Homo sapiens: one gene and its partners. The protein of the gene in region 2 purifies or fractionates together with the protein of the main gene of each other region. This does not show direct contact. Each region holds a gene or a part of one and is shown on either strand. Other genes may lie near its edges. The genes, in order: MOCS2, IPO13, HK2, XPO4, TMEM9B, PWP2 and SYNPO2.

Region 1 (3,500 bases), on a different chromosome or scaffold from region 2:
ACCACAACGCTGTAGGCAATTCTAGACAATTCTAGACATTGAATGTGCAACCACAGAACAATCCCACTGTTAATGTTACTACACCAGGGGAGAAACTAGGGAGTTGGGCCTTTTCATCCCATCAGAATGCTCTATTTAACCAGAGAATTACTTGCCCTTATTGACAGAAAACATGCCAGAAGTTCCTATTTCTGTTTTTAAATCCACTCACTGCATTTTCTCAGAGGGAGCAATATCTCACCATTTTTTTTTCTTCCCTAAAAAGGACCTCTAGGAAAAGCCTCTTTCACTTTAAAGAATTTCTATTTTAGCCATTACCTAAATAGCTAATGCATTATTCTCACTCTCCAACAGAAAGACCCTCTAATTCAAGGGAATTATAATCCAAGGAAAATAACTTCATGTATGAACCCCTCCAACAGTCCAGACTAGGAATTCTCACTGTTATCACTCATTGAGGCTTACTGTGTGCCATGCATTCTTTGGGGCACATATTTTTCATGCTTAACAAATCTTGGAAAGAAGATATTTCACAGATAAAGAAAACAAGATACTACAGTCAGTAAAAAGTCCATAAATATGGGGGGATTTATCTAAAAATTCCTGAGAAAAATCAGGTCCACATGCTAAAATGTGTTATTTTCTTAACTTACCTTTTTCCATATGGGCACCTTGGCTTTTAAAGTATCAATGGCATAGCTCACAGCTTCAAGAGATGCAGCTCTGTGGGCTGAGGACACAGCAATGATTATGCTTGCTTCTGACACTGGAACCAAGCTTTAACAAGATGAAGAGAAAAAAAAATCACCATCATCTCTGAATCTACGTGTTAAAGAATCTGCTAGACAGATGAAAAAAAATCCAGGTATGCAGTCTTAGAATTATACTGTAGTTCTATTTTACGTAAACATACAGTTAGAAAAGAGTAATTAATTGCAGTAGCATTCAGCAGAGGCAGTAGATGAGGCTGATGCTACAGCTAATTTGTTAGAATCTATCCACTAAACCCTCCTGATGGGCACCAAGGAAAATCCTTTCATTGATAGAGCAAACATCTGACTCAACAAGGCACAGTGCCAAGTAATGCCTAGAAATACAAAGTTATGTCCTAACGAGTATAATACAAAATTTAAAATAATACATATCAAGTAATAGGAGTGATAATAACCATTAATAAAACTACTGGTTATTAATAACAAACTAGTAACTAACAGAGTATGATAGATACAGTCTCAATTACTGGCTTCTTTTTAAAGCCAAGAACTCTTCTCTTTTTAGGGGTACAAAAAGGCAAACCACTCTAATGACTTTCGAGGCATTTATATCAAAAAGAATCTGTCACAGATTGTCATAGGGCCTGCAAGTCTTGGCACAACTGCAGTTTGTTACAGCAACAGAGGCAACAAGAGCTCTCCCAATATCAAAACTCACTAGGCAGTCCCTAAAGGTACTAACAGCCATCCCTATTGTCCTCCAAAAATAATACATGAATATTCCTCTCATGGTAATATAGAATTACTAAGAAAGATTCAAGAATCAGAGTTAGTACAAAGATGGAAAACAATTACACTTAACTTTTAGAGTGATAAAGGAAATCATACCCAAGTCTATGGAACACTGCTATGTGTTTGACTGGCCATTTCTGCCTAATGTCACTACAAATCTTTCTGACTTCATTTTCCGCCATGGGTAGATATGCTTCATATTCTAAGCTAATGACTTTTTTCCCTTCAAAGTTATTTCTTGTAGTCCCTTTAAAAATGAAAAAAAAGAAAAAGAAAACAATTAAAATAAGGTTTTTCCCTACAAAAGAAATAGCACGTTAATAAAAAAGGAATATTTTTAATAGTAAATTAATAGTAAACAAGCAGCATACCAATTCTTCTAAAACTACTTTGAAATCTTCTAAAAACAAAATTTGATTAGGAAAATAAAACAGATCTTCACAAAGATGAGCACTGATTAAGCAAGCTTACTAAAAACACTCACCTGGCAAACCGGGCAATATTCCTCTTCTGACTAATAGATACTTAAAAGGAAAATATTTATGTTCCCAGGACTATCAAGTACATTTTTACCTTCAATTTTGGAAAATCTAGAATTCTCTCTCCTAACAATGACTTTTATCCTACTTTTCAAAATGCCTTGTAATTTAATATAGGTTAATTTGAAGGTTACTAAAACAAAACAAGAACTAAAAAAAAGTCTACCCACCATCATCGGTAATCTTGGTTTAAAGTTCAGTATTTCAAACTCCTCCGTTAACACTGAACATGGAAAGCACATGCTAATTTCTATTGTCTTATACAGTGATAGATGCAATGAAAATTACAACTCACCTACAAATAGGGATATTGCACCACAGAGCGGAGAAATCACCAACTGTGAGACTTCATCTACTGAAAGTTTCTCGGCAGTAAAGTTTATAACATCTTTAGATTTCTCTTCAACTTCATCCATATCTTTCCTAGAAATAATACATTAACAAACCTTAACAGAAGTCCTAGGGGTAAAACACTCAACAACTTATAGGCTCTTTCAATTTATATTTTTTTCTACATTATGTCGATGTAAAAGGAAGAGGCTGTGGCACAAAATATAGTTTACATGAGTCAAATCAAGGACAGTGGCCCAGGATGCTTCTAAGATACCTTGGGGAGTTCCTTTGGGGAGCACTCCCTCGGCCTTTGTTGCAAGCAGGTTTGTAAAGGCAAAGGGAACAAAAAGTGGGCTGATACAATGATACAAAGTTTCACCAAGAATTCTCACTGGCATACAGAGATAATGTTGATCACTGATTGGCTGTACACTGTTGAACTATAGGGTGGGTACAAGTTAGAGTGTCCAGCATATGGACTTTATGGTTTCTTAGCTTCAGCTAGTCTGCAGCCCTCATAATAAGTGGCTTCAAGGGACCAGTGGCTCACACCTGTAATCCCACCACTTTGGGAGGCCGAGGCGGGTGGATCATTTGGGGTCAGGAGTTTGAGACCAGCCTGGCCAACATGGTGAAACCCCGTCTCTACTAAAAATACAAAAATTAGCCAGGCGGTAGTGGCACACATCTATAATCCCAACTACTTGGGAGGCTGAGGCAGGAGAATTGCTTGAGCTTGGGAGGTGGAGGTTGCAGTGAGCTGAAACTGATCATGCCACTGCACTCCAGTCTGGGCGACAAAGTGATACCCCATCTCAAAAAAAAAAAAAGAAAAAAAAGGTAATGATGCAGCTTAATGGGGAGTGACATGACTGCCATTTCATTCCAGTGCCTTTCTGTGCCTCTTAATGTTTTATCTGACGGGCTCACATTCCTCAGATAAAAAGTTTCTTTTCTTTTTTTCCCCACCATTAAATGTGTTAGGAGGCATGATTTGATCTGAATGATAAAAATAAGCAAGTGTAAAAATTAACAAAACTCAATTATGTGTATAAATATTCATAATGAATCAGGCATGACATAAAAAGTAATCCATTATTAACATGATCACTAAAATATAATC
Region 2 (2,286 bases):
TGACTTCATGTTGATTCACAGAGGGAGTTAAGCACCCCCAGTTTGTGAACAGGGTAGCAGGAAGAAGAGATGGCAGCCAGACAGGGAGCCCTCAGCCCAACAGCCCTCCTCCCATGTCCCTCCTGTATTCCTGAGGCACCCTCCAGCTCCTGCTCAAAAAGAAGAAAAGTACAGCAGGAGCCTTGGAGCCTCAGCCCCATCTTTCACCCAGGGTACCCTGTGTCCAGGCCCTCTTCGGCCATACACACACCAAGGAGCCAGTGCTGCTGTGGGTGAGGGGGAAGAGATGAAGTGAAGGGGGCAGATGGCCTGCCCCGAGTGGTACCAGGACATGACTGGCACATCCTCAGGTCACAGGAGATGCTCTGCACAGCTCCAGTCATCCTCAAACACTGCTGCTCCCCAGCAATGCCCCCAGTGCATACCACATAGACCTCTACCCTCCAGCCCCTCACATCCCCTCTACCCCCCATGTTTACTCATGTGCAAACACCCCCACATGCACCATCACTTGAAATGCCCTCCTTACACACTTCTCTAACACCGCTAACATACACACACTCTCCCCATCTGGAACACACCCTCATTACACAGTCATACACCAAACACCTGCACATCCCCAAACCATGTCCACACACCTACACCCTCAGCCTTCCCACAGTCCCCCTGTGCACTCTTCCAACATACCCATCCACAAATACACATTCAGACACCCTCCGCATCAAAGATACACCTTTGAAAACACCCACACACATATCCATCCAGGCCCAGAACACTCCCTATTCTTCCCTCCTCCCACCCTACCCATCCCCCAGAAACTAGACTTGTAAGTTCCAGGAGAGCAAGAACTGTGCCTGGTTTTGCTCGCTATCATATCCTCAGTACCTAGCAAAGTACAGCATGTATCACACACTCAATAAATATCTGTGGAATGATTAAGCAAAGAAACACTCCATTTACCCCAATTCACAGGTTAGGGGGTCTGCGTGCTAGGATCCCCTAACACACAGAAGCCCCCATCACACTAACTTCATACCCCCACAGCCCAACATGCATCTCCAAACCATACTCTGATACAGACATACCAATGCCACAACATACACTCCTATCCTCCATAATATACACTCCGACAACCCAACACACACACCTCCAACACACGTCCACGCTCTAAATCCATCAAGGCCTAACACATCAACAAACAACACAAAACACACAACACATCAACATACAGCACACATCAAGGCACACATTCATCTCAGCACCCAACACAATTCACATACTACTTACAGGTGATTTCTGTTCCCTTCCCAAACCAAACTCAAAACATACAAAATAAGGTCTCACACACTGAAACACATACAAAATGCAAACACATCCTAGCATGGAGCCTGCACTCCACCTCCTAGCAGCAGCTCAACCTCTCCAACAGCCCAACTCTGGGCTCCACCGCGCACATTCCTCTTCAGCCCCTCGCTTTGGAGCTGCTCCCAGCCTACCTCTCAGGAGCAGGCTGGGGGCACTGAGGCAGGCAGTTCCCGGCAGGAGCACGGGGACAGTGTACCCCAGACCCTTCAACTCCAGCCCTACACGTGAACTTCTTGGGCAACAAGAAGCTGCTGGGCGCAGTCACCACCCCCTCCCTTTCCCATTCCCCACCCGATGCCAGCCCAGCTCCCTCCGTTTGGGATCAGCCTCTCCCTGGTCTTTGTAGAAGACTGAGCTAGTGAGGCATAGGGGCACTAAAGGAGGATGTTGGGTTGTCAACTTCCACGGAAACAGATGAAGAAACTCTATTCAACTGAACAGAAAAAAAATTTGTCAACAGAAAGCTAAAAATAGGCTTAAATTGAATTTCAACATAAGAGAAAGAGAAAGAGAGAGAACAGAACGTGAATGAATAAAACTAAAACACACCTGTGCCAGGAGTTGCATAAATGAATCAACAATATCAGGATGATCCCTGGGCCCTAAAATATAATAAAGATGGAACTTAAGAAAAAATTATACAAACAGCAACTCAACCTCATATAGTTATGTGGGACTGAGAGCCTGCAGGGAGACAGCGTGGGGGCACATGAGCAGCAGGAAGCAAGATAAAGAAACAAAACATACAAAAACCATGAACTGGGAGAAGCCCAACAGAAAGAGACGGCAAAGTGAAGGACGGGCCTGCCCCAGCTCCCTCCAAGGGGCCTTCCGCCTACTCCCCACTCCTCCTCAGGCCATCCCCTCATGTTCCCTTGGTACTTGAGCAATTCTGGACTCCATATAGCTGAAGAAACGGCC
Region 3 (3,500 bases), on a different chromosome or scaffold from region 2:
GAATCTTTAAACTATAATCCATGTATTATATACACTATTTGGAATGGCTGATAATTCACTATAAAGTAACAAAGGAAAGAGAGAAAGAAAAGGGAAAGAACAAAGACAGAAAGAAGGTAGGCAGGGGGGGCTGGGATCAGGCACTCACTGAGGATGTAGCTTGTAGAGGGTCCCATCCACACCCACTGTCACTTTGAGAGCGTCCAGCCCACGGTTTTCTCGTATCCTGTCCACCACAGCGGCCATGCCTGCGCCACAGAGCTGGGCTGCCCGCCGGGCCACCACAGTGCACACCTCCTTAACAATGATGCTGTCGTCACAGGTGCTCTCAAGCCCTAAGTGTTGCAGGATGGCTCGGACTTGCAGCAGGGCCAGGCAGTCACTGGGGTGGGAGGGAGACAGCAAGTGTTCAGTCATGCACCAAGAAGGCTGGTAGCCTACCACACCAGGGCCTGAGTCCTTACAGGGGAGGCTCTGTGGGGGTCTAGCTCTCCAGGAGCTGGCCCCTCGAGGTGGTTCCCATTCCTAAATTCAGACCACTGCTCAACCTACTGCACTGCATTGACTCTTCCTGACGGTGACAGGAATACAAACAGCTCCTCATTCTACTCTCCCTACTCCAGATAGACCATTACTACTACAAAGTAGATACTCAAAACAAAGCAAATTCACTGTTTATCACAGTGGTCAGTTACAAAGCTCTTTCATGTCCATTTTCTCGCTGCTGTTCATGGGTTTGCAGGGCAGGAACTAACCAAGCAGCATTAGACTCGTGCTTTATTTCTGCTCTGCTGCTCTGGGTGGTCTGAACTGTATTTATATGCTATTTACGAAGGAAGTGTAAATAAAGTTATAGAAAGAAAATAAACCCTCCTATATAAAGAAAGCTATTTTAGAAGCCTGGAATCACCTCGCTGAACATAACAGACCTATAAGCTAGAATATATCTTTCTATTCACTGGTGCAGATGCCCGAGGGGTCTACTCACATCAGTTGTCTAGTTCCTGTTCTTCTCTGCCCTGAGAGTAATGGCACAGCATTAATTTTTAAAGGGCTCTGAAATTCACTGTTCTAATTTGGAGATTTTCCACCATTTGACTGTAGGAGGGAGGCTTTGCTCTAATGAGCCACTGTGTGGCATGTGTCTGCATTGCCTGACGTTCCAACCTTTACTCAATCCTGGCTGCCTGATTACTGCAGCCAGCAGTTAGGAAGGGCTTTCAAGCCAAGTGTGGATGCTTTAATAGGTTATCTTCCTCTGTGCGTTTCAATTTACATGCTATGAGCAGGTATCTTTCTACCTTTGATACATGGTCTAAAACCCAACAATATCACTTTGCATGACCTCAGGCCAGGCTTAGCACAAACTTTCATGAGAATGCTCTGTTTGCCCTTAAAATGACAACTGCCCATAATGTGCTTTTAGTAAACACTATAGACATGAATGTGTTTGCCACTAAACTGACTTTTGTATGAGTCATGCCCTGAGTTATGGAAATCCTTCAGTTTGTCTGCCAGTGAGAAAAAAGGACATGGCCCCCCTGCTACCCTGAGCCCTAAGCTCTCACCTCTCAATCTGAGACAAGAACTTGGTTTCAAAGATGCCCCTTGTCTTGAGCCGCTCTGAGATGCGGCCTCGGAAGAGTAGTCCACGCTTGGTGAAATCGATGAGAATGTTACGGACAATCTCACCCAGGTACATTCCACTGATCATTTTCTCGAACCTGCAATGCAAGTAACATTCATGGAGGTTAAGTAGGAAGGTGGAGGGATGTGTTGAGACAGGACAGGCCAGCTTAGTCACCCCCAGTGCATCAGCAGTGGCAGACAGGCAGACTCCCCTGATGGGAAAGGAATTGCTACTTGATTCACTTGGGCAGGATCCCTGGTGTCTTTGCATGCTAATTCACAACCTTCAGCAACACTGACCACAGTGCCCGAGGCCCGTGGGGCTCCTGGGGAAATAAGCCTTGGAAAGGAACCCACAGGGAAAGGAACTCATTTCCTTTCCAAGGCTTATTTCGAAATTTCAAGAAGCAACTCGAGAAGGAACACACCATAACCCCACTGGACTTCTCGGAGCAGGGGAGAATGCTGAGTCTTAATCTTTAACCTCACTAGGCATTCAGTATACATTCTCTTGGACCTAACCATCATTACTCAAGTAACTACTGCCAGCTGTAGGGCCCCCATCCTGGCCACTGGAACTAAACGTTATTATGCAGTGGCTTGAGGGTCTTTTGGTCCTGAATCCTGCCTTGAAAAAAAAACGAGGTCCCTAGTTTCAACCAATAGCCCATCACCACCCCATCTTATCTTGACCCAGCCTGCTTCCTTCATTAATGTTGCCTGCCTGGCCCCTAGAGGCATTTTAGTCTGTAACTTCTATTCTAGACACATGTTTTGCAAAGCGTATTCTGCAGGACTAGGGTGTTTGATTAATCTAGTTAGGAAACACTACAGACAACATCTTAATGAGAAGTGTGTTAGATCTTAAGCTATTGTCTCTTAGCTCAGACCCCGCTCCCCTACCATGCACAGGACCTTGTGACACTGGGGCTGGCCCCTTGCTCAATTCTGACAGTAGGTGGTGCTCGGCGCTGGAAGATGGAGGAGGGAGAGGATTTGCTCCTGTCTGCATCACCCAAGAGATGCTCTTCAGCCTGTCAGCAGCAGGTGCTTCAACTTTCTACTTGTTTCTCCTTAGAGTGCCAGACCTAGGGTCTAGTATTCTCCCACCTGTTCTCCTAGGCTTTTGGGTGGGAGATGCTTCTTACATTTACTAACTCAGAACTTTCCAGGTGCATTCGACAAGAAACCCTTTCCAAGAAAACCTCCTTTATTAACATCTCACGAGAACCGGCGTCCTGGGAGATGCCATTGTGGAAGCTCTGATCACTTGTTGCCATCCAGTCCTGGGATACACTTAACAGGGCCCCAGTTGGGTGCCTACCTCTGCTTGCCGGGGTTGAGTGAAAGCTCATCCACAGCCACATCAAATTCTGTGCGGAAGTCATCTAGGCATCCATTGTCCCCGAAGGCCCCCCATTCCATGTTCACACACATCCGCCCCTCTTCTCCTTCCACCAGTTCCACGTTGCGCATCTCCTCCATGTAGCAGGCATTGCTGCCCGTGCCTGCCAATCACAGGATACCAGGGCCTCACTCAGCACCAACCCCTCCACACCCAAGGCTGTGCATCCCCATGTGGAAAGGACAGTCTGGGTCCTTACCAACAATGAGGCCAACTTCACAGTGAGGGTCTTCAAAGCCACAGGTCATCATAGTTCCGACTGTGTCGTTCACCACAGCAACCACATCCAGGTCAAACTCCTGAGAGGGAAGAAGCAGATGCCCAGTTCACAGGTGAACCCCAATATTCTCCTTTCAGACAATTGCATGGGAGATTTACAGGTATATAAAATATATATCATACACCATGGCTGACCCTCTCATTCCATTCAGGTCTGTGCTTAAATGTCACCTCTTTGGTGAGACCC
Region 4 (3,500 bases), on a different chromosome or scaffold from region 2:
CAATTAATTTTTCTCCCACCTCAGAAAAGGGTGAGGAGGAAAGAGAGATTTTGATTGACATTATATTCAATTTAGAGATGAATGAGGGAGAAATTGCCACCTTAACCGGATTGACCTTTCAGACCAAGGAGCATAGCCTTCATTTAATTCAGCTCTTTTATATTCTGCAAATAAGCTGTATCATGTTCTTCACAAAAATGGTGCATGTTTCTTATCAGTGCCCTATAATTTATTTCTACAGTTTTTCTTTCTAACAGAATGGGATCTTTTTTCCAATTTTAAGCTGATCACTGCTGATATAAAGGAAATCTTGCAACCCATTTATTTTTCTTACATCTGGTCATCTTTCCAAAGAACTAATGGTTCCAACAGTCTTAGTTATTTTGCTTAAACTTTTTTTCCGAAATGTCATATCACCTGCAAATAATCATTTTTTGGCCTTTCTTTCCAATATCTGCACTTATTCCCATTTTTTGTATTACTGTATCAGTTAGACCCTCCAGAAGGTATTAAATAACAGTTATATTAGGACTCCCGTTTTACTTCTGAGGATATCATCATTTAATACATGGTTTCAGATAACTATTTGTTATCATATTGAGAATTCCCTTCAATTCCTAGTTTATCCAATTGTTTTAATCATAAAATGCTGTTAAATTTTAACAACTGCCTTTTAGGCATCTATGGATGATTTCAAATGCCTTTTTGCATTTCTTCTCTGGATCACTGGCTATGTTCCAATTAGTGTGACACAAGTCCAACTGCAAATACACATTTAATTGAACTGAATTTGAAACATAAATTTCCTATTAATTAGCTTTTTTGAGAAAAAGAATGCTGTGCCAGTTTTCTAATATCTAGTGCCACCGCAGGTACTACAAGACAGGGCTGAAATAAACAAAAATGCATACTTACTATAATGCATCTTTCAAATAAGAAAAGTAGGTTCAATTAATTAAAATTTTCATTTTTATGACGTGTACTGTGGTTACAAAAAAATAAAGGCAGTGTACCTTACACATTGAAGGTCTCAGGAAATATCTACTACATAAATGCTCAAATATTCCTCAAACTCACTGTATTTCCCCAAACTATATTCTCTCAGACTATATTCCCCAAAATATATATCTCCACCTGGGATATTGCTTATCAAACTAGAAAACTCTAATCTATTTTTCATGATTCAGCTTAAGGGTTACCTATTCCAAGAAGCCCTTTCTCAGTCCCTATCTCAGCCTGAGATAGATGTTTGTACCTACTTCTATTATAACTTTACCAACCAACATTTGCTAATATTTTTGCCTTTCTCCACTCCTTGAAAAGAAGGTGCTTCTTCTGTCTCCTCAGCATACACAGCATAGTGTCTAACATGCTGTGTTTCTATATACTGAAGAAATGTTCTAAAACAAATCAATGGCCAGAAATTGGATTCCAGATCCAAACTAGCTACATGACAACAGGCAAATCATTTGCCATCTCTGAATATCAGGTTTTCATATTTATTTATTTATTTATTCTATTTTTTTGAGACAGAGTCCCGCTCTACAGCCCAGGCTGGAGTGCAATGGCACAATCTCTGCAACCTCTGCCTCCTGGGGTCAAGTGATTCTCCTGCCTCAGCCTCCCAAGTAGCTGGGATTACGTTATAGGTATGCACCACCTCGCCCAGATAATTTTTGTATTTTTAGTAGAGTCATGGTTTCGCCATGTTGGCCAGGCTGGTCTCGAACTCCTGACCTCAGGTGATCCACCTACTTTGGCCTCCCAAAGTGCTAGGATTACAGGTGTGAGCCACCATGCCTGGCCAGGTTTTCTCATTTATAAGGTTTAGGAATATCTCATCCTATTTACTTCACAGGACTGATATGAGAATGAAGACAAAAATTTTTCTATAGGACTACAGATGTGCAAGTATTTTAGAAGATATTAACCAGATTCCACTATAATAAAATCTATGAAAACCAGTCATGAATCTCGTTTATTAAAGTTGGATTTACACTCACTAAATCCATCCTGGTTTAAAAACAAATGTATGGGCCGGGTGCGGTGGCTCACGCCTGTTAATCCCAGCACTTTGGGAGACCAAGGTGGGAGGATAACCTGAGGTCAGGAGTTCAAGACTAGCCTGGCCAACGTGTTGAAACCTCATCTCTACTAAAAATACAAAAATTACCCAGGCGTGGTGCCAGGTACCTGCAGTCTCAACTACTTGGGAGGCTGAGGCAGGACAATCACTTGAACCTGGGAGGCAGAGGTTACAGTGAGCTGAGATTGTGCCATTGCACTCCAGCCTGGGCAAGAGTAAGACTGTCTCAAAAGAAAAAGGAAAAAAAAAACCTATGAAAATTACTTTTCTATAATGTATCAGTTAATATGTGTGCTCTGCACTATCTTATATTATTGCTACACACAATCACTAAGGACAATCCAAAACAACCTAATGAAGACAGGGCAACAAAACCAAGCAAATTCAAGACAATAAATAAAGCGCTCTTTGGACTGCAAATGAATGTGGCATCAATACTATAAGAACACTAAACTTTTCAATAATGTTGTCTCTAAAATCAAAACACCTCCTACATTTTAGTATACAAGAGGATGTGCATAGGTCATACACAATTACCATACCATATCATGTAAGAAACTCACCTGGGCACAGTAGCTTACGCCTATAATTCCAGCACTTTAGGAGGCCAAGGCAAGAGTATCACTTGAGCTCAAGACCAGCCTGGGCAACACAGTGAGATCCTCTCTACAAAAAAATATTTTTAAAAAATTACCCATTCAAGGCTGCAGTGAGCCATGATCATGCCACTACACTCCAGCTGGGACAACAGAGACCCTGTCTCAAAAGAAAGGGAGGGGATCGGGGGGACTTAAGTATCAATGCACGGTTGATGTCCATGGGTGGAGGCGGTTCCTGGAACTAACCTCTCATGGACACCGAGGGACAACTGTACTACTTTATCTGGCAGCTTATCCAATAATCTAAATTGATTGAATATAGATGTACCATATTTAGACATTTTCCATCAAGTAATAAAATGTAACATTTATAGTATATGTTGACTAAGAACCAACATGGTTGAGTAAAAAAAGTAAAAAAAAAAAAAAAAGAGTAAAGGTTTTGAAAGGGGAGTCTGGTGATCTCAGCCTGGATCAGTTATATCATGAATTTGCTCTGTGACCTACCTTGGGCAAGTCACTTCTACCTCTTTGAACCTCAGTTTCCCCATCTGTAGCATAGAAGGGAGAATGCTTAGACTTGATTCTTATTTTTCAGTTTCTAGTCTCTCAGAGACGGTGATAAAAGCTCTAGACCCTATTACTAAAAATGTACATTTACACCAAAAAATTTGTTACAATTTCCTTTTGATATTCATCCTAGACTCCCTAAGACTTCTGTACCAAAAGATCTAAGATTCTTCTATGTTCTAAAATTCTATGCTGATTTCCATAAAACAACTATATGAGTTACCTAATGAAAAATTAAGCAAAAA
Region 5 (3,500 bases), on a different chromosome or scaffold from region 2:
CACACCTGGCTAATTTTTATATTTTTAGTAGAGATGGGGTTTCACCACGTTGGACAGGCTGGTCTCGAACTCCTGACCTCAAGTGATCCACCCGCCTCGGACTTCCAAAGTGCTGGGATTATAGATGTGAGCCACCATGCCTGGCCTGAAACTGGATTTTAAAATGTTTTAAATCTACTAAAATTTATAGAATTGTATACTTATAGTGAGTGACTTTTAGGGTACATAAGTTGTATATTTTTTACAAATCTGTTAAATAATAGTACAGTGAGGATTTATCTAAAGTTCAGCACCCTGCTGGAGCAAGAGCTCTTCCACAGGGTCAATCACAGCAGAAATGTTTGTGACTATTATAACTAACCACCCCACATTCCCCACAGGGCCTTTTGGGGGGAAAGGAATGGGAAGTGCCATGTAAAAAAAAATTAGGCCAGGCGCGGTGGCTCACACCTGCAATCCCAGCACTTTGGGAGGCCAAGATGGGTGGACCACGAGGTCAGGAGTTCGAGACCAGCCTGACCAACATGGTGAAATCCTGTCTCTACTAAAAATACAAAAATTAGCTGGGCGTGGTGGTGCATGCCTGTAATCCCAGCTACTCAGGAGGCTGAGGCAGGAGAATCGCTTGGACCCAGGAGGCGGAGGTTGCAGTGAGCCAAGATTACACCACTGCACTCCAGCCTGGGCAATAGAGCAAGACTCCATCTCAAAAAAAAAAAAAAATTGGAAGAAAAACCATTAGCCACTATAATAAAGTAACTGAACTCATTAGAAATACAAATGGTGATGAGAGTGATCTACATCCCATTTACTACAGCAATACTCCACAACCTTTTTGGCACCAGGGACGGGACCAGTTTCATGGAAGACAATTTTTTCATGGACCAGGGGTGGTAGGGGATGGTTTGGGTATGATTCTAGCACATTACATTTATTGTGCACTTTATTTCTATTATTATTACATTATAATATATAATGAAATAATTATACAGTTCACCATAACATAGAATCAGTGGGAGCCCTGAGCTTGTTTTCCTGCAACTAGACGGTCCCATATGGGGGTGATGGGAGTCAGTGACAGATCATCAGGCATTAGATTCTCATTCTCATAAGGAGCATGCAGCCTAGATCCCTCACATGTGCAGTCCACAATAGAGTTCATGCTCCTATGAGAATCTAATGCTGCTGCTCATCTGACAGGAGGTGGAGCTCAGGTGGTAATGCGAATGATGGGGAGCAGCTGTAAATAAGATGAAGCTTTGCTCACTTGCCCACTGCTCACCTCCTGCTGAGTGGCCCAGTTCCTAACAGACCACAGACTGGGCTGTGGCCTGGGGGCTGGGGACCACTGTCCTACAGGAAATGAAGAGGGGAAATCTTAAAATCCAGAAGTAATAGTTCTAGAATAATTACTATATATTTAATTTTTTCAAAGGGCTGGAAAGGCAAGGAGAGGAGGGCTTATAAATGCTGCTCTCTCAGCCTCTGGCACACATGGCCTACACAGAAGCTGGGATATCTTTCTGGAATATGCTAATTACACATAGGGCATTTTTGTGCCATTTCACATATCTATCTAACATACCCTAACTAATCCACAAACCATGTCAGTGAGGCAGGCAGAACAGGCCCATTATTCCTTTTGGGGTAGGGGTCCAAATTTTTCTGTCTTGTCTAGAAACCATCCAGAAGCAGAAAAGACGTAGACAGACAGACAGACAGGTAGATAGAGGGATATATATTTTACCTTGATTGTGACAGAGCTTCTTTCTTCATATTTGCATTCACAGCGTAGACAGTATGCTTCTACATCAGGCCCCCGCACAGGCATGGGCTCCACAACATGAAGGCAATCACTGAAAAAACAAAGATAAAATGCTGCTTAAGCCCAGCTAGCTCTTCTGCTTGCTCTGACCAAAAGTTTCCTGAAATCTAGAATAATCACTAAACTTACCCAATGAAAGAGCATAAAAAACAAATAATCAATAAGATAAAGTAAAATAATTTCTGCTCTCAATATTAGCATTTTGGTAAGTTTTAACCATTTAAGAAGCCACAAAGTCACACATATAGTAGTGTCTATTTTCAAAGCTGCTACTGTTAACAGTTACAAAAACGCACACAAAAAATCCCAAATGGGATGAAAAACTACTTAACAAATCAAGTCACCTTTAGACTTGTTCAGTTACTAAGGAAAACTACTTAAAATGGTTTAAAGTGATATGGGGCACTGTTCAAATATAAGATTATCTCTTTTGTGAATTAACATCATTCTTTTTTGTTGTTGTTTTTTAAGAGACAAGGTCTTGCTCTGTCACATGGGCTGTAGTGGAGTGGTGCCATCATAGCTCACTGCAGCCTCAGACTCCTGGGCTCAAGTGATCCTCCTGCCTCAACCTCCAGAGCAGCTATGATTACAGGAGCCTGCCACCATGCCTGGCTAATTTTTAGATTTGTTGTAGAGATCAGGTCTTGGTTTGTTGACCTAACTTGTCTTGAATACCTGGCCTCAAGTGATCCTCCTATCTTGGCCTCCTAAAGTGCCGGGATTACAGGTGTGAGCCACCGTGCCCAGCCAACATCATTCTTAACTGCCAGTGTGGTGTATGAATGACTAACCACGTTTAACAGCGTGGTAAATTCTGAAACTCTGAAAATTGAACCCTCAAAGCCACACACAGGAAGAAACAATCACTTTTCTTAATGAGCAAATCTGAAAAAGCAAGGAGAAATAGAATAACTAAAATATTTTAAAACAAAAACTGGTTATTCCAAAGAACTAAATAAAAACTAACAAAGGGATGAGTGTTTTTGTTGAATGTTACTTATTTCCCCAACCCCATTTTCAAGGCTAATTATTTATGGTTTGTGTAAACACAGTGCTATCAGATTTTTCCTAGAAATCTGTCAATTCTAAGCAATAACTAAATTATTATTCTCCTCAACTATTAAGAGTCTATGACTCTGATCACCTTCAGCAAAATTAGGGAAAGCTTTCCTGTCCTCCTGCCAGCTGTTGGACAATTTTCTTTCCTTTTGGCATCTCTTCGTTAGGCATTCCTGGCTGCCTCAAGCACTCTACTACACCATCCTATCTTATCTTACCCATTCTCTTGGGGACACCCAATACTCTATAGAGTGATTCCTTCTCTTTCCCCACCAAAATGTACTTTTTGGAAACAAAGTTACAGCTTGGTGGGAGGAATAAGTTCTAGTGTTCTATATCCCTGTAGGATGACTATAGTCAACAATAATATATATTATAGTTTCAAATAGCTAGAAGGAGGATTTTGAATATTTTCAACACAAAGAAATGATAAATGTCTGAGATGCTAAATATTCTGATCAAATCACTATATCTTATATGAATTGAAACATCACTATGTATCCCATAAATACGTACAGTTATTGTGTCAATTAAAAATTAATTTCAGCCGGGCGCAGTGGCTCATGCCTGTAATCCCAGCACTTTGGGAGGCCGAGGCGGGAAGATCACCTGA
Region 6 (4,077 bases), on a different chromosome or scaffold from region 2:
AGCTTTTTCTTTGCATTCACAACTTGCCTGTTTGGTGGCAGAGACCTGGCTTTTGGCCTATTTCAGCTTTTGACATGCCTTCCTCACTAAGCTGAGTCCCTTCTAGCTTCTGATTTCAGGTGAGAGTTGTGTGACTCTTCCTTTCACATGAACACGTAGTGGCCACTGTAGGCCATTATTAACTGGCCTAATTTCAGCATTGTTTGTGTCAGGGAATAGGGAGACCCAAGTAGAGGAAGAGAGACGTGGGGGGGTGGGGAACAGCCGGTCGGTGGAGCAGGCACAGCACACACAGTGCTTACCGATTAAGCTCGCTGTCTTACATGGGCACGGATCACGGCACCCCAGAACAATCACGATAGCAACAGCAAAGATGATCACAAATCACCCTCACAGGTATAATAAACTTTGAAATATCACAAAATTACCAAAATGTGACACAGAGACATGAAGTGAGCCCCCACTGCTGGAAAAATGGCACCGACCAACTTTCTCCAAGCAGTGTTTCCACACACCTTCGCTTCGTGGTAAAACAGCATCCGCACAGAGCCAGAGTGCAACAAAGTGAAGCAAAGTGCAACAGCACACAGGAAGAAACCGCTAAACCCCAGCGAATAAAACTGACCTCCGGCTGCAGAGCTGGAAGCTTTGGGCCTGCCCGTCCGACTGGTGAGGCCCAGTGGCAGCAGGGCTCCCGAGCAGGGGTCCAAGGTACCTTCAACTCCCCCAGCAGCCCTGGCCTTTCAGCCCTTAGGGGCCTTCCCTGATGGGGGAAGGGCTAACCCTGAGCTACACCTTTTCCCCCACCCACCCTTCACAGCACAGGGACAGGGTCCCTTCCCACAGAACGGAGCCAAGTGACACACCACTTTATGGGGCCTGGCTAAGGCACTACAACGAAGAACTGGGTCTGGCTGCCAATTTCCACAACTGATCTGCTGACCCTAGTCTGTCCTGTAGTCCTGTCCTGGGCTCCCTTAATTAACGGGTGCACCATTAAAAGGAAGGCACAGAAGACACTATCAGTTTTCATATGTTACTTAAAAAATGGTGATAATAGTAATCAGTATCACTATTATGAATACCACTTTCACATACTTACTTTTTAAGGTCAAATACAGTGACTCTATTGCCCACGGGACTGATAACTGAATTTCCATCGCAGGTAAAATTTAGGTTCCCACGCCGGTACACCGTACCCAGCAAATTTGAAAACTGTGAAGAAAACAAAATTGTCTTAACACAAAGAAAACAGTCGACTCCCAGAAAAGCACTAAGTGAGGCATCTGGGCAGAGAGATGGCATAGAGAACCCCACCTTGGGGGCCCGTTCACCTTTCCTGGGTAAGAGAGGAAGAAGTGAGCCTGATCCTCAGGAGACCAGAGGAGCCCGGGCGGCCCCAAGCTCCCACAGAGATGGGTAAGATGCCCCTGTGAGCACTGAGGAAGCCTCCCAAGACAGGAGGCGTCTGCCAGGTGAAGAGGGGCATGGAGCCCACACTTCACCAAGAAAAAAGCTGCAACAATGGAACAGCACCCCAAAAGTGCTTAGAACTCAGGGCTTCCAGAAGTGTGGTAAGCCAGCATCCTATTTACTAACTCACGAGCACGAGCGTTCACTGGAGACTGCCATGCGCACAGACACGCACACCTTATATTCTCTCTCTAGCAGGAGGGGGATGAGAAGTGTGGGAGCAGGGGCTACTTTAGACGGTGGTCACGGAGAGGCACCTGGAAGGGTCACCTGAGCTGGAATCTAAATGGGAAGGCACCAGCCAGGCCCTGAAGCTGTGAGTGGGCAGCGCCCTCAGGACCTCAGGGAGGAGCTTGGTCAGCAGAAGGACTTTAAGCGGCCAGGCAGGCTCCAAGGCACATTTTTTGCCACCTTGCAGTAGGAATGTGGAGCGGATGAAGTCCTGGCCTGTGAGGACGTGGATATGGTTTCTGGTTTGGTGCTGGGCACACAGCGGTGGCTCCACCAGCACAGGGGACACAGGAGCAGCACTCTGAGGGGCCAGTACCATGCCCAGTTTCGGACAGGACAAGTGTAGTACACGGTGGGCTCAGCAGCAGGCGGCCCGTGCAACCCTGGAAGCGCAACGGTCAGGGCCACTGTGGGAAACACAGGCGTCCCCATAACCGGCCAGCTGTAGCAAACGCTTCAGAGACCCCCAGGCCGGCTCCACGGCCCCCTCTTATTACCTGTCTCACCCGCCTCCTGCACTTCACATCTGGGACAAGTCTTCCCTGGCTCTCAAAGCTGAGGGCGTCCGCCTCAGGAATTCCCTCCGGCCTCGGGAAACAGAGCTCACACCTGGGTTCCCCGCCCTTCCGCTCACCTGGACGCTCGCTCGTTAGGGACCAGTCCCGGGCCCCGGGTCCCTGCTGTTCTCACCCCGCCTGCGCGCGCCCGCGTCCCCGCCCCGTCCCACCTCCTCATCCCTCCCGAGGGTGCTGTGCCCTCCCCGACTGCACCAACTCCAGCCTTTAGGTTGGGCCATACTCAGGTTAAAAATATCCCGGGACCCCGACAAATGTCCCTGTTCCCTCCGAGAAGCCGTCGGCGCCTCCGTCCCAGCTCTCCCAGGAGCCCCACCACAGCCCCGCGTCCCCGAGGCCACGGGCGCGCAGACAGCCGGCGACCCCCACGCGGCCAGACGCCGCAAAAGCAGACCACGCGCCCCCAGCCCGCCCGGAGCCAGCTCAGGCGCCGTCCACCGGAAGAGCCGCGCCGATCCAACAGACCGCCCGCCGCCCGCGCTCACCCGGTAAGCGAACTTCATCACGGCCGTCGCACGTGTGCCGCAGCTCAACCCGGCGGCCGCCCACAGAGACACTTCCCGGGGGTCCGCGCGGCACCGCCCACAGCACGCACTTCCGGGAAGCGACGGCGTGCACCGCCCACAGCGCGCGCGCCCGGGACGGGGTCGCGCACCACCGTCCGCAGCGGCCCAGGAGGCAGGAGGAGCTGCGTCGCCCTCGCCCCGCCCCGAGGCGGAGTTTGAACGCGAGGCCCAACCCCTCCCAAGGCGGGGGCCTTCTCCGGGCCCCGCCCACACCCCGGAGCCACACTGCAGGGCGCCTCTTAGGCGCGCTCCAGCGCTGGGCGCGCTCCGCACGGACGCCCAGCCTGGCACAGCAGCGTCCACAACATGAGAGCGCTGCACACCCAAATGTCTTCGTTCTTGTGAACTGTTGGGTAAGGAATTATGAATAAAGTCCCGAATGCTGGCCGGTGCGGTGGCTCACGCCTGGGAGACTGAGGCGGGTGGATGACCTGAGGTCAGCAGTTCGAGACTAGCCTGGCCAACATGGTGAAACATCATCTCTACTAAAGTATAAAAATGAGGCGCATGCCTGTAGTCCCAGCTACTCGGGAGGCTGAGGCAGGAGAATGGCTTGAACCTGGGAGGCGGAGGCTGCAGTGAGCCCAGATCGCGCCATTGCACTCCAGCCTAGGCAACAGAGCATGACTGTCTCAGAGAAAAAAAAAAAAAAAAAAAAAAAAATAATCCGAATGTTTCCCAAAAGGCAAATAATCTATGCCCAAGAGTCAGGAACAAGGACTAGGGAGATAAAACAATAAAATCTTCACATTACATACTGTTGTCACACCATGTCGCAGCAAAAGATCCAGTGCAAAATAGTTTCTTCTTAAAATGTGTATTTTCAGAATTACAATGCTTACATTTTAAAGTCTTAATACAATGGTTTTAATCTAACAATATATTACATAATATGAAAAATGACTTTTCATAGTAAACCATGAAAATGGAATACCTGCAGTGTCAAAGTCACCAACTTGTCACCTTTTCCAGTCACAGAATCCCAACACATTGTATTAATGATGACTGGGGGGGGTCTTACAGCCTGATGTATATAGGATGAATAAATGTAGAGAAAGGAGCATTTTCATGAAAAATAAAATTTAAAAACCAGGTAGGATTTATTTTAAAGAACACAGTTGAAAGTAAAACATTTACATCAGCCCAGTTTGCCCTTTTGTAAAAAGTAGTATAGCTTTTCATTTTATATACAAACCTGCAGTGTCTGATTTCATTTTAAAACTTAATTTTAA
Region 7 (3,500 bases), on a different chromosome or scaffold from region 2:
CGAGTACACTGACGAAGCCTGCACATTCGTAGGTGAGGCAGCATTCACTGGCCGGGGAGGAAGAGCTTGCTTCATGGCCAGGGCTGAATTGACCTTGACTGATGACTTCTGGGGGAGGCCATCCTTTGCATCTGGAGGTTGGAAAGTAAACAAGGATGCATTGAGCTGATACGGTTGGTGCTTCATGACATCTAATGCATTGAGGGGTTTCTTTCCCTTTTTCTTGCCCATTTTGGAGGGCTGTGCAGCTGATGGCTGAGACTTGAGAGCAGCCAGTGGGTAAGACGGCGAGTGGATAGGATTATAGGCCACAGGAGGAGGTGCTCGGACATTGGAGGAGTACTTCCAACTGGCCGGGAGAGATGGAGTGGGAGACTGAGCTCGAGCAGCGTGGGCCTGCACCGTGTCTGAATCGACCACATACTTCTCCATTCTCGACTGCCTTTTAGCAAAGAGCTGAGCTCCTCTCCCACTCATTCCTGGAAGCTCATTGGATGGTCCCACTGCACCAGGCTGAACAGCATTGACTGTTGGTGTGGAAACTGTTGGTTTGGGTGTGTAATTCTGACTGGCTACTGCTGCTTGTGGTCCTTTGAAGGGACCAGCCACGTTCAAAGTACTTGCAGGCCGGGCAGGAGGGTAAGAAGGCTGGGCTATTTTGATGGAGGAGACAACGGTGCCCTTTGATGGGTTGGATGTGGGGAAGGCAGGAGGTTGGGTGGGAGCCACTCCTGGAGACCAGACTGGGGAAACTGGAGTTACTGGTTGGGAGGATGAGGACTTGACTGCAGGTTTTGGAGCAACAGGAGGAGGGGTCTTTTGTTTGGCAGAGGAGCTTTGCATGAAATTACAAGCCTCTGCCCCCAAGCTGAGGTAGTCTTCTTCCGGTCCGGAATCACCTCCAGCTCCAGTGCCCCGTTTGCCTTCTGAATTTTGAAGGAGTGACAAGAGTTCAGGATTTGGGCTTACTTTGGGCTCTTTAAAAGTAAACATGGGTTTTGTCGTGCTTCTCCTTTTGGCCTCCTGCAATATTCCTGTTCTTTTTGCTGGCACTGAGATCCTCTCATCTCGGGAAGCTATTCGCTCAGACGAATCGTAAAAGGCTGGCTGGGACCACGGGGCAGGCTGGGGCCATGGAGGGGGCTGTGCTGGGCCAGCAATCGGACTTGAAACCCCTCTGGAGAAGGCGTCAGGGGGAGGAGTGACTGCAGAGTAAGGTGGAGGTGCAGGAAAGTCAGCAATGGGACTCGTCATGTTTCGGGTTGGCGAGAAGGGGGTAGCTGGCTGATTCACAGACCCTGGGAAGGGTTTGGCCGTTCTATTCATGGGGACCATCCTCTGGATGTTTGCTGTCTCAGATGTCCCACTGAAGCCATTCTGTTGGGGAACATGGCCAAGACCATGACTCACCTCGATGTAGCTTTTGCTCACAGAGCTCTGCGTTCTTACCGACTCTTCCTCCTTTCTTTGGTAAGAAGTCGTGGTTCTCAGGCCATCGGTCTGGGCAGCATCTTGTTCTCTGCTTGGCGTTCCACCTACCTTGTCCTCTTCTTTTTGGGCTGTGATCTGATCCATTCTCTCCCTCCTCTTGGCAAACATGAGGGCTCCCTTGCCTGTGGTGTCTGGTAACATCTCCATCTTGTCCCCTCTGTTCAGTTTCTTTTCAATGTCCACCAGTCCAGAATCCCAGTCAAAGTTCACAACTTGTGTGTTGTCGTCAACGTCAGACAATAACTCTTCATCCACCTCTGATTCGCTTGCACCAAGAAATGCTACTTCACATGTATCCTCCTTGTCACCTTCTTCCTCCTCGTCCGCCTCTCGCTCAAGCTCGCCAGTACCGTAGCTAACTAGGGTGTATTTCCTGGCCCTCCGACGTCGCTTCTTAAACATCAACACCCCCTTGGAGTTGGGGTTGGGAGCATCCGTTAGAAGAAGGGCAATGCTTTTGCATTTAGATTTTGCTTCCTTCACTTGTTTTTCTGACAGGCTTTCACTCCTCCTGAGCCCTAGGGAAAGCAAAAAAAAAAAAATTATATTGAGCTGATGAGTTCAAGGAAGACACCACAGCAACTCAGAAATGAACTCTCCTGGGGGAAAATAAATATGTAAAAAATTGCCATTGAGTACAGAATTTTGAAGGAATCCAACACATTTCTTTTTCTTATTTCTCTTAACATGTTTCCTTCTACAATAATATACTGTTCTATTTGTTTACATAAAAATATTTTATATATGCTGATTAGAATATATGTTTCATACATTTGTTTCTCTAGAGATCCTTCCACTTTAATAATAAAAACTGGCTAGTAAATGTCAATTAATAGGATAAAATTAGAATTAAGAAGGACATAATTTAAAGACATAATATTTTCTGAAAAACAAGATGAGACATATCTCATACTTCCATATTTTAAAATAAAGTGTCAATATAAAACTGTTTCCAGGAATCTTAAAAAGGGAGGAGCGTCCCAAGAAGATGTTTTAAAATTTTCTAAATGTTTTAATGTAATGAATTTAGCTATTTAGGTTTTCTTCTTTCTCTTTTTTCTTTTTTTACCCTGACAACCACCCCAAATCTTTCCACTCACAGCTACTGGATTAATATAAATTCAAAACACTGAATTAATCATTGAAGGTACTGAATCAATAATTAAAATTCAAAATATGACATTATTGTAAATACATATAAGAAACTCTAGCTACAAAGTTTTCTAGACAGATTTGTTTGTAAATGTATTGCTATTTTGGAAATACAATATTACTTTCCTTGCAGCAAGAATAAACCTTGGAGAAATTTAAAAATTGACTTGTGACCCACTTAACTGTGTAAAAACTGATGCAGAAATTAAGTCATTTAAAACAAGAATATGATTTTTATTTTATAAAAATAAAAATATTTAAAATTTTCTTTCATTATTACTATTATAAAAAAGAAATGGGTGGCAAATTATAGCAACTAAACATATAGCATCTATCATTTATAATTTATAGTTATATCATATTTTCAATGATAATGACTGTGAGTCCCCTAAATTTTTTAATTCCTCAAAACAGTTAAGTGGAAAATTAAGAAAAAATTTTTGACTATTTTATGATTGAAAATTAGCTCTTTTTGTCACAGACTTAATGGTTAATTTTTTTTAAATAAAATATAATCCAAGGAAATAATTTTATAATATGATTACAGGCATTTACTGGTGATCGAATTTTCTAGAGAAAAATAGTTGAAACTGTGGTTATTACTAAATAGAATTCCTTTTTTGACTAGTGTTATACAACTTATTAAATTGACAGTCACAGTTGCACAGTTGCTGCTAACTTCACTGCCAACATGTAAAGTATGTGAATGGTGTCTCAATACTCTTGTTTAATATGCTATAAATGTGAAGATGGCCTACAGATGCTTAAAGTATAAGGAATGATTAACAGCACTTGCCAATAAAGCTACAAATGGTTATGCTAAAAATATGCTTTGAAAGGAATAACAATAGGTTAGA

Evidence for each region.
Region 1: the proteins of IPO13 (region 2) and MOCS2 purify together in Homo sapiens (affinity purification with mass spectrometry; one large-scale study listed by BioGRID and IntAct). This does not show direct contact.
Region 3: the proteins of IPO13 (region 2) and HK2 purify together in Homo sapiens (affinity purification with mass spectrometry; one large-scale study listed by BioGRID and IntAct). This does not show direct contact.
Region 4: the proteins of IPO13 (region 2) and XPO4 fractionate together in Homo sapiens (co-fractionation; one large-scale study listed by BioGRID). This does not show direct contact.
Region 5: the proteins of IPO13 (region 2) and TMEM9B purify together in Homo sapiens (co-immunoprecipitation; one large-scale study listed by IntAct). This does not show direct contact.
Region 6: the proteins of IPO13 (region 2) and PWP2 fractionate together in Homo sapiens (co-fractionation; one large-scale study listed by BioGRID). This does not show direct contact.
Region 7: the proteins of IPO13 (region 2) and SYNPO2 purify together in Homo sapiens (affinity purification with western blotting; one study listed by BioGRID). This does not show direct contact.

The regions. Positions count from the first base shown.
Region 1 is NC_000005.10:53,099,758-53,103,257, forward strand, and holds part of MOCS2 (molybdopterin synthase catalytic subunit large subunit MOCS2B), read right to left. Parts: intron 2,468-3,500; coding exon 2,340-2,467; intron 1,753-2,339; coding exon 1,602-1,752; intron 778-1,601; coding exon 654-777; intron 1-653. UniProt on the Homo sapiens protein: Catalytic subunit of the molybdopterin synthase complex, a complex that catalyzes the conversion of precursor Z into molybdopterin.
Region 2 is NC_000001.11:43,963,950-43,966,235, reverse strand, and holds part of IPO13 (importin-13), read right to left. Parts: intron 1,968-2,286; coding exon 1,915-1,967; intron 1-1,914. UniProt on the Homo sapiens protein: Functions in nuclear protein import as nuclear transport receptor. Serves as receptor for nuclear localization signals (NLS) in cargo substrates.
Region 3 is NC_000002.12:74,886,127-74,889,626, reverse strand, and holds part of HK2 (hexokinase-2), read right to left. Parts: intron 3,334-3,500; coding exon 3,234-3,333; intron 3,138-3,233; coding exon 2,954-3,137; intron 1,725-2,953; coding exon 1,569-1,724; intron 383-1,568; coding exon 149-382; intron 1-148. UniProt on the Homo sapiens protein: Catalyzes the phosphorylation of hexose, such as D-glucose and D-fructose, to hexose 6-phosphate (D-glucose 6-phosphate and D-fructose 6-phosphate, respectively).
Region 4 is NC_000013.11:20,896,247-20,899,746, forward strand, and holds part of XPO4 (exportin-4), read right to left. Parts: intron 1-3,500. UniProt on the Homo sapiens protein: Mediates the nuclear export of proteins (cargos), such as EIF5A, SMAD3 and isoform M2 of PKM (PKM2). In the nucleus binds cooperatively to its cargo and to the GTPase Ran in its active GTP-bound form.
Region 5 is NC_000011.10:8,954,443-8,957,942, forward strand, and holds part of TMEM9B (transmembrane protein 9B isoform a precursor), read right to left. Parts: intron 1,857-3,500; coding exon 1,748-1,856; intron 1-1,747. UniProt on the Homo sapiens protein: Enhances production of pro-inflammatory cytokines induced by TNF, IL1B, and TLR ligands. Has a role in TNF activation of both the NF-kappaB and MAPK pathways.
Region 6 is NC_000021.9:44,106,122-44,110,198, reverse strand, and holds the start of PWP2 (periodic tryptophan protein 2 homolog), read right to left. Parts: upstream 2,801-4,077; 5' UTR 2,783-2,800; coding exon 2,765-2,782; intron 1,216-2,764; coding exon 1,103-1,215; intron 1-1,102. UniProt on the Homo sapiens protein: Part of the small subunit (SSU) processome, first precursor of the small eukaryotic ribosomal subunit.
Region 7 is NC_000004.12:119,028,354-119,031,853, reverse strand, and holds part of SYNPO2 (synaptopodin-2), read right to left. Parts: intron 2,010-3,500; coding exon 1-2,009. UniProt on the Homo sapiens protein: Has an actin-binding and actin-bundling activity. Can induce the formation of F-actin networks in an isoform-specific manner.